Homo sapiens: one gene and its partner. The protein of the gene in region 2 purifies or fractionates together with the protein of the main gene of each other region. This does not show direct contact. Each region holds a gene or a part of one and is shown on either strand. Other genes may lie near its edges.

Region 1 (5,186 bases), on a different chromosome or scaffold from region 2:
CCACAACGAAACAAAGATTCACCACCATCCCCTTATTAGGGTTGCCGGATAAAATACAGGATGTTCAGTTAAACTTGAATATCAGATAAACCACCAATGATTTTTTAGTATAAGTGTGTCCCAAATATTTTATGGAACATACTGACACTAAAAATAAGTATGACAAATATTGCACGGGACATACTTACGCTAAAAAAATTATTTGTAATTTATCTAAAATTCAAATTTAACTTGGCATCAGCTATTTTTGTTTGCTAAATCTGATGACCCTTATAAATTCATAATGAGCTGACCTATGATATACTTATATATTTCTGCTTAATGTCTGTCTTCCTTGTCTAGAATGGAAAGTCCACTTAGAAGAAGGACTGTTTTGTTCAGTATTCCTAGAGCCTAGAAGAGTGGACTGGTGTCTGATTCATGGTAGCTGTTCATGAAAATATTGCCAGATGAATGAATTAATGTACATTATAAATACAAGCCACACCATACAATCAGGAAAAATTACATATTGCATAATTTCAGGGTTGTAAACACAAAACTATGCACACAAACTCCACAGACACAGACACATGTTTCTACAATATACCCACACAAATCTACACATATCAAAGGCTATCTGGTATGTATCACTCTTACGCTTCAGACGTACTCATAGTCACCACACAGGCCTATGTTCCTATTGATACACTATCAAAATACCTGTTGACTGTAATTAAATACTGGAGTATCCACCAGAAGCCTGTCTCACAAACCATGTGTGTTCACTACACCTGACATAGGTCAGCCACTCAGTAAATATTTGTTGGATGGTAAATGATGCACAAACATTACCCATCCATCATATCTCTGTTCCCTTCATACCTTTCTCAGGAATGTCAAAGTCCCAAGAGGATGCCCTGCAGCCTGGATCCACTAGAGTGGCCAAAGGCTGGAGCCAAGGGGTGGGAGAAGTTACTTCTACCTCCGAATACTGCTCCTGCGTTTCTTCTTCACGCAAGCTCATCCACAGTGGTAAGGGTGCAGGGTTCCTTCGGCACGTGGCTCCTTGGCTGTGGGGTTCATTGGGCATGAAAATATTTGAGTGTGGGGCTCTGTGGGCATGAGACTCTTTGGTTGCAGTGCTGCTTGGGTGTAAGACTCTTTGGGAGTGGGGCTTTTTGGGTTTGGGGCTCCTTCGGTGTGACAGTCTTTGGGTGTGGGGCTCCTTGGATGTGACATTCTCTGGGTGTGAGGTTCCTTGAGCATGAGACTCTGGATGCAGGGCGCTATGGGTATGTGACTCTTTGGGTGCTGGACTCCTTAGGCATGGGATTGGGTGCAGGGCTCCTTGGGTAGGGGGCAGGAGGCCCATAGATCCAAGGATGAGGCTAAGAAGAAACCCAGGGCAGTTGGATATGATCAGAGCTCTGCAGAGGTGTCTGGGCAAGATGACAGAGCTGTTAGAAGAGCATGGATATAAGCTCAGTGTAGGAGAGCATGAGCCCTGGTGTGCAGTCAGGCAGTCAGGGAGCAGAGGCCAGAAAAGTCTGCTGTTGGGGTGTAGGGCCACAGGACCAGATTAAGCACTTTCATCGGAACTATTTGGGCTCTGCCTTTGCCTTCCAGAGAAAGACAGATTTCCTCAGCCCAGGCCTCCAGCACTGCAGCGGGACTCTAGCTCAGGCCCACACACCTCACACATACAGCCACACGCTCCACAGGTACACTTTCTGCACACACACCACCCAAATGCATGACCTGCAGTGCCATTCTCCCACACTACCTCCCACATTCCACAAATAACACATCAATGATGGCACCAACTCACATCCTCATAGCACACACATGCTGCCGACATTCCACATATGCTGCAGTCCTCACCACCATACTCCACACCCCTGTATATGGACACCCCACCAACATCCCTACACGCAAATGACACTAGAATCACTACCCCACAATATGAACAACAAATACCAAGCTCACTACACAGCTGCATCTCACCACAGTCCCTGTCTCCTGCACCACACATATTTAACTTACGTTCCCTCAGCTCCTAGCATGGCCCATGCATCTGCTCATGTTTCTAATTTCCTTTCCCAGGAATCCAGAGAATACATCGAGACAGCCCCCAGCCTCAATCACCCCTGGCCCAGGTTCAGGAACGAGGAGAGACTCCTCCCCGCTCACAACATGTCTCCTTGTCGTCCTATTCATCCTATAAGACTTGTGTGTCCTCTCTGTGTGTAAACAAAGAGGAAAGGGGCATGAAAATATACTACATGCAGGTACAAATGAACAAAGGTGTGGCTGTCTCCTGGGAGACAGAGGAAACTTTGGAGTCCTTAGAAAAGCAGCCAAGGATGGAAGAAGTGACCCTTTCTGAGGTTGTGAGGGTAGGTACTCCCCCCTCTGATGTGTCCACCAGAAACCTCCTGTCTGACAGTGAGCCCAGTGGGGAGGAGAAAGAGCATGAGGAAAGGACAGAATCAGACAGCCTGCCAGGCTCACCCACCGTTGAGGACACACCCAGAGCCAAGACTCCTGACTGGCTGGTGACCATGGAGAACGGCTTCAGGTGCATGGCCTGCTGCCGGGTGTTCACCACCATGGAAGCCCTCCAGGAGCATGTGCAGTTTGGGATCAGAGAGGGCTTCAGCTGCCACGTCTTTCATCTCACCATGGCTCAGCTGACAGGCAACATGGAATCAGAGAGCACCCAAGATGAGCAGGAGGAGGAAAATGGAAATGAGAAGGAGGAGGAAGAGAAACCAGAAGCAAAGGAGGAGGAGGGGCAGCCCACAGAAGAAGACCTTGGCCTGAGGAGATCCTGGAGCCAATGTCCAGGCTGTGTGTTTCATTCTCCAAAGGACAGGAAGTGAGCAAAGCCTGGGTTGTGGGTCTGCTGAGGGAGCAATGGCTTCCCCGAGCCAGTACTGTCTCCCCAGTTCAGGCTTAGGTCTCTGTAAGGAAGATTTGGGGGCTTTATTGGCTCAGGGAACAATGGAGGGGGACATAACTGGGATCCCTGCTTCTTGCCTAGGCATCTAATAAAGTCTCGATTGTAAGTCAGGATTTGTCTTGACCTTTCCAGCTCCTGCAGGAAATTCTGAGAATTTCAAAAGTCGCATTAACTAAGAAGTGTCTTTCTTTGGTTTGATTTTCACACAGCAGCTGAGACTTATGGGCCAGAAGATACTGGAAGATGGTGTGGCCTTCTCTTGCAAGAGGTAAGGAGTGAGACTTGCAGTTTTCTGAGGCTGTGTTGTGAGGGCCCAGAGGAATCCAAGGGAAGGAGCTGCAGGGATGCACTGGGTCACCTGGTGGCTCTGCAGCCACATCAACTTATCGTGCACCTGGTGCTTCTGGGGGAATTGTCCTCCATTTGCTTAGATGACAAGGTGAAGAGCATTGACTGGGAACTTTCTCAATGTCTGCATGATTGTCCTCAATTCTAAGAGGAGGTGCTGCAGCTCTTCTAGGCAGCGGAAGCTCAGTGTAACCTCAAGGGCCAGGATTGGCCTGAAAGGACAGGATGCCAGCAAGATCAGAGGTGTGGAGTCTGAGAGCCTTTGGCCTGAGCTGGGATCCCACCTGAGCCCATAGATATAGCCCTTGGGGAAAAGGGGAATTTGGAGAGGTAACAACATCATCCTGATGAGACACCAAGAGAACTGGAAATGTTTCAGAACCTTCATTTTGCTGCATTTGATCTGGAAATGAACTCACTGTGGGTTGCATGACTCTGAGCTTCAAAACAAAGGTGAAGGGTAACTGACTAGCAATGCTTGTATTGTTTCTTGCCTCTTCCTCTTCTGCCTCAATTGTTTTCTTCACTTCCAGGGAGAAGAAAGAGCCATGGAGATAGTAGCAGACAGGCTGCCCAAGGTATGAAGCAGATGAGGGACCAGCACTCAGTCTAACATGTAAACATCATACGTAATAAAGGTTGTGTTTCAAACCTTACCTGGATATATTATTTAATTAACAAATTAATCTACCTATCTATTCATCATTTTCTTTTTTTTTCCTTTTTCTTTTTCTTCTTCTTCTTCTTTTTTTTTTTTTGAGATGGAGTTTCATTTTTGTTGCCCAGGCTGGAGTGCGATGGCATGATCTCGGCTCACTGCAACCTCTGCCTCCTGAATTAAAGTGATTCTCCTGCCTCAGCCTCCCAAGTAGCTGGGATTACAGGCATGTGCCAGCACACACAGCTAATTTTGTATTTTTTTAGTAGAGATGAGGTTTCACCATGTTGGTCAGGCTGGTCTCGAACTCCTGGGCTCAAGTGTTCTACCCGCCTGGGCCTCCCAAAGTGCTGGGTTTGCAGGCGTGAGCCACGGCGCCCAGCCCTATTCATTATTTTCATCTATCTCTCCAGTGGTTTGTGAACGAAGTTTTACATCAGCACTAAAGATATCTACCAGCCTTTTCCAGAGGCAGCAATAGCCAAGCTCCTGGGTTTGATTAGACTTCTGTGTGACAATTTTTTCAAGGCTGGATATCACATTTCATATGAGACCATGACAAACTCCACTACATACCTATGTTTCCATCATCCCGCTTTATTAAGCTTAGCATTTTTCTACGTTTGCTTCAGATGGCTTTGAAGTAAAAATGATTACAAATACAGCCATAGTCCCCTGTTCCATTGCCTTACATATGGATTTTGAGTATTTTTTAATACTTCTGTGCATGTTTTATACTATTATATAAATATATAAAGTGTTTTGAATATCTTGAAAGTTTCACATACTATTGTACTTCATTATTAGTTTTCAACTTGTTTTTATTAAAAAACAGGTTTTTAAGATTATCCATTGTCATACACATATCTGTAGTTAACTAATTTTTACTACTGTATTATAGTTCATTCTATGAATATGCCAACTTTTTATTTATTGTCTTTTTGATGAAATTTCAGTTGCATCCAAATTTCCTCTATTACCACAGAATGTGTGTCTCTCTCTAGAATGTATACCCAGACATCCATTGCTGTGCTGAATTATATAGATATTTCAGTTTAGTAGTTACTGCCGTGGTGTATTTCTTTCTTTGTTCAAGCATTTTTTTTCTTTCTTCATTCTTCAATAATGATTAATGCTTTTCTGCACAAATGTTATATACAATTTTTATTCGATGCAGTCCAAGATATCTTTTCTTTTCATTCTCCTTGTAAATGGTATGTTTTTTCTATTATATCT
Region 2 (4,921 bases):
GTGAGCCGGCTGTCAGCATTATCAGGGCGCAGTGACAAACGGAACTCTACTCGGCTGGTAAACATGCGGTATGGTTCACTGGTGCCCAGAGTAGTGAGGTCATCAATCAAGACTCCTATGTAACCTTCTGTTCGGCTAACCACAAAGGGAGGCTTGCGACTGACCCGAAGACTGGCGTTGATTCCGGCTATCACACCCTACAAGAGCACTGAAATGTTTAAAAGGCCATTATGAACTAAACAAACGGCTATCCCATTCAGAACACTACTCAGAAACAATGGCATGGGACAGGAAGAAAGCAAGTATTGCCCCTAAGGGATATAATAGAGGTAGAAAATGTGATCCATATTCAGAAATAGAATATGGGTAATATATCACTTTAGAAGGCTATGATTCATTGTTTTCAGAGATATCCATCTAATCTTCCTGATAAGCTGCACTCTGCGGGGACTAATCTTTTTTTTATCCGGAGACAGGGTCTTCCCCTGTTACCTAGGCTGGGGTGTAATGGCATAATCTTGGCTCACTGCAGCCTCGACTTCCTGAGTTTAAGCAATCCTCCCACCTCATCCCCCCAAGTAGCTGGGACTATAGGCACATGCCGTCACACCTGGCTAATTTTTACATATTTTTGTAGAGATGGGGGTCTCACTACATCACTCAGGCTGGTCTCGAACTCCTGGCTCAAGCAATTCTCTCTCCTCAGCCTCCCAGAGTGCTGGGATTACAGGTGTGACGCACCATGCCCAGCCGGTTAATCTTTTTTTTAAAACCCACCTGTGAAACTTCTCTAGCCTTTTCCCACTTGCAAATAAAAATAAAATAATTTCTGACTTACAAGGAATAATAATATAATAATTTCTAATGAAGTATATTAAAATAAATTTTAAACTTCACAAGCAATACATCTAATCAAAATATGATATCACACAGGAGCTCAGAAAAGAGTAATAAAGCCATAGTGTTTTAATAATCCTATTATTGGCTGGGCAAGGTGGTTCACACCTGTAATCCCAGCACTTTGGGAAGCCAAGGCAGGTGGATCACCTGAGGTCAGGAGTTTGAGACCAGCCTGGCCAACACAGTGAAACCATATCTCTACTAAAAATGCAAAAATTACCTGGGTGTTGTGGTGCATGCCTGCAGTCCCAGCTACTAGGGAGGGCTGAGGCAGGAGGATCGCTTGAAGCTGGGAGATCATATCACTGCACTCCAGCCTGGCAACAGAGCAACACTCTGTCTCAAAAAAAAAAAAAAAAAAAAAAAACCCTATTATCTACAAAAGCCATCTCCAAACACCCTGAAACATAAATTGTCTTCTATTAGTATGAATTGTATCTAAGATCTACATAGTTAACACAACAGACATTAAAAGGAGAAATACCAGTTAAATAGTCCCTTTCAGTTTACATTAATATCTTAACTTCTTACTTGAGCTGCAGCTTCCTCATAACCAGTGGTGCCATTGATCTGTCCAGCAAAGAAGAGTCGTTGAACCAAATGAGTCTCCAAGGAAGGGGTGATCTGACGGGGATCTAAGTAATCATACTGAACACCGTAGCCTGACCAAAGAACAAAGACATTAAATAAGTAAATACAGAGCTGGATTTGCTCAAGGTAGAGATGCAAGCATTACCCTTAAATGCCCTTTAAAAACAGACTATTTAGGTCAGGAGCAGTGGCTCACACCTGTAATCTCAGCACTTTGGGGGGCCAAGGCGGGTGGATCACCTGAGGTCGGGAGTTTGAGACCAGCCTGACCAACAGGGAGAAACCCTGTCTCTACTAAAAATACAAAATTAGCCGGGCATGGTGATGCATGCCTGTAATCCCAGTTACTCAGGAGGCTGAGGCAGAAGAATCACGAACCTGGCAGGGGGAGGTTGTGGTGAGCCGAGATCGCACCATTGCACTCCATCCTGGGCAACAAGAGCAAAACTCCGTCTCAAAACAAACAAACAAACAAACAAAAAACAGACTATTTAAAATGTATAGGTGTTGGGCTTCATCTTCTGAGGCTCTGAACAACAATGACTGTAGCTAAGGCCTCCTCACTGACCATTAAAACAATGCTGACCTTATACTGAAGGGCACTTGTGATCTTCTTTACCTGGCTGAATCACTTTAGCTTTCTCCAAGCCTCTGATGCATGTGATCATTTTCTCTTGTAACTCAGCTGGTAGCGTCATAGATAACCCCTGTGGGTAGATAAGGTCAGAATCCATTCCTTCAGGTTCCAACCAAACCTGATGTAGACGGTTTGGAAAACGCAAAACTTTTGATTCAATGGAGGGACAGTATCTAGAATAGAACATTTAAATAAACTTGAAATGAACAAAAGAGGATTGACGTCATTCCTTAAAGTAACTGAGCACTGACATTTTGTCCTTACCGAGGTCCTCTTGTCGTTTCTTTAACATGACTATTAAGGTGAAGGTTCTTAAGGACAATCTCATCCACTCTAGGGTTGGTGTGAGTCAAGTAACATGGCAGCTGATCTTCTGGCTAAAAAACAGTAACCAGATGCAATACTGATTTGCTTATCTACTAGTTTCTCTCTTATCCAAATAAATTCCACATGATACGTACTGACTTTAATAGACACTAAACTTGTGCATAATGCCTAGTATTACTTATGAAGTATTCTTGCCAAAAATAAACATCCCAAAAGATGAAGTTAAATTTAAGCAAAACTCTAAATCTAACTAGCAGTTTAATTTTTTTTTAATGTTTTTATTTTTTGAGACGGAGTCTCACTCTGTTGCCCAGGCTGGAGGGCAGTAGCGTGATCTCAGCTCACTCCAACCTCTGTGTCCCGGGTTCAAGCGATTCTCCTGCCTCAGCCTCCCAAGTAGCTGGGATCACAGGCATGCACCACTACGTTCGGCTAATTTTTGTATTTTTGGTAGAGACAGAGTTTCACCATGTTGGCCAGGCTGGTCTCGAACTCTTGACCTCAGGCGATCCACCTGCCTCAGCCTCCCAAAGTGCTGGGATTACAGGTGTGAGCCACCGTGCCTGGCCATGGTTACTTTTTTAAAAAAGTTATTGCCAAGTGCAAGTGGCTCACACCTGTAATATCAACACTTTGGGAGGCCAAGGCAGGTGGAGCACGAGGTCAGAAGTTTGAGACCAGCCTGGCCAACATGGTGAAATCCTGTCTCTACTAAAAAGACAAAAATTAGCTGGGCATGGTGGCGGGTGCCTGTAATCCCAGCTACTCGGGAGGCTGAGGCATGAGAATCACTTGAACCTGGGAGGCGGAGGTTGCAGTGAGCCGAGATTGCACCATTGCACTCCAGCCTGGATGACAGGGCGAGATTCCGTCTCAAAAAAAAAAAAAAGAAAAAAAAAAAGTGTTTTTGTGCCCACCCAGGGACTCCTTGCTTTGTTTGGGCTGGGCGCCGTGGCTCACGCCTGTAATCCCAGCACTTTGGGAGGCCAAGGTGTGTGGATCACCTGAGGTCAGGAGTTTGAGAACAGCCTGGTCAACATGGTAAAACTCTGTCTCTACTAAAAAAATCCAAAAAATTAGCCAGGCATGGTGGCAGGTGCCTGTAATCCCAGCTACTTGGGAGGCTCAGGCAGGAGAATCGCTTGAACCCAGGGGGTGGAGGTTGCAGTGGGCCAAGCTTGCGCCATTACCATTGCACTCTAGCCTGGGCAAGACTCTGTCTCAAAAAAGAAGAAAGGGTTATCATAATTTGCATACTACCAAAGCAAATATATAAAAGTATCTTGCTCAAAGTAACAGAATATTTGAAGCCATACATCAGGATAACACTCACCAGAAACTAGGACCATCAATTATTTTTTTTTTGTACAGGCAGGGTCTCATTATGTTGCCCAGGCTGGTCTTGAACTCCTAGGCTTAAGTGATCCTCCTACCTTGGCCTCCCAAAGTGCTGGTATTACAGGTGAGAGTCACTGTGCCTGGCCAATTCTTCATCCTCAATCTTAAACACATACAATATACTTTTTTTTTTTTTTTTGAGACAGAGTCTTGCTCTGTCGCCAGGCTGAAGTGCAGTGGCATCATCTCTGCTCACTGCAACCTCTGCCTCCCGGGTTCAAGCAATTCTGCCTCAGCCTCCCAAGTAGCTGGGACTACAGGGGCATGCCACCATGCCCAGCTAATTTTTGTATTTTTAGTAGAGACGGGGTTTCACCATGTTGGCCAGGATGGTCTCAATCTTTTGACCTTGTGATCCACCTGCCTTGGCCTCCCAAAGTGCTGGGATTACAGGTGTGAGCCACCATGCCACGCCACATTTTTTTAAAACTCGAGAGATAGGTAAAAGTGGCCTCTACACTTCAAAAATGTCGGCACCATTAAAGATTGACAAACTGTTCCAGATAAAAGACTTTAAAGAGAAATGACAATTAAACGCAATGCATGACCCTTGATTGGGAATAAAAAGGTTGTTTTGGGCTAGGCTTGGTGGCTCATACTTGTAATCCCAGCACTTTTGGGGCCCAAGGCAGGCAGATCCCTTCAGTCCATGAGTTTGAGACCAGCCTGGGTGACACTGCAAAAACTCATCTCTACAAAAAATACAAAAAGTAGCCAGCCATGGTGGTGAGCACCTGTGGTCGCAGCTACTTGGGAGGCTGAGGTAAAAGGATCATCCAAGCCTGGGAGGCGGAGGTTACAGTGAGCTGAGATTGCACCACTGCACTCCAGCCTGGGCAACACAGTGAGATCCTATCTCAAAAAAAAAAAAAAAGCTGCTTTGGACAATATTTACCAATTAGCAAAATGTGACTACGGACTTTATGTTAGATAATAGCACTGTATCAGTGTTAAATTCTCCGAATTTCTTTTTTTTTTTTTTTTTTTTTTGAGACATAGTCTTGCTGTTGCCCAGGCTGCAGTGCAGTGGCACAATCTCAGCTCACTGCAACCTCCCCATCCCTGGTT

Evidence for each region.
Region 1: the proteins of MTO1 (region 2) and FAM170A purify together in Homo sapiens (co-immunoprecipitation; one large-scale study listed by IntAct). This does not show direct contact.

What each region holds. Positions count from the first base shown.
Region 1 is NC_000005.10:119,631,875-119,637,060, forward strand, and holds the end of FAM170A (protein FAM170A), read left to right. Parts: intron 1-873; coding exon 874-1,014; intron 1,015-2,085; coding exon 2,086-2,860; intron 2,861-3,153; coding exon 3,154-3,160; 3' UTR 3,161-3,212; intron 3,213-3,825; 3' UTR 3,826-3,948; downstream 3,949-5,186. UniProt on the Homo sapiens protein: Acts as a nuclear transcription factor that positively regulates the expression of heat shock genes. Binds to heat shock promoter elements (HSE).
Region 2 is NC_000006.12:73,477,316-73,482,236, reverse strand, and holds part of MTO1 (5-taurinomethyluridine-[tRNA] synthase subunit MTO1, mitochondrial), read right to left. Parts: intron 2,506-4,921; coding exon 2,393-2,505; intron 2,302-2,392; coding exon 2,111-2,301; intron 1,945-2,110; coding exon of another isoform or gene 1,870-1,944; intron 1,563-1,869; coding exon 1,432-1,562; intron 1,241-1,431; coding exon of another isoform or gene 1,121-1,240; intron 209-1,120; coding exon of another isoform or gene 198-208; coding exon 1-197. UniProt on the Homo sapiens protein: Component of the GTPBP3-MTO1 complex that catalyzes the 5-taurinomethyluridine (taum(5)U) modification at the 34th wobble position (U34) of mitochondrial tRNAs (mt-tRNAs), which plays a role in mt-tRNA decoding and mitochondrial translation.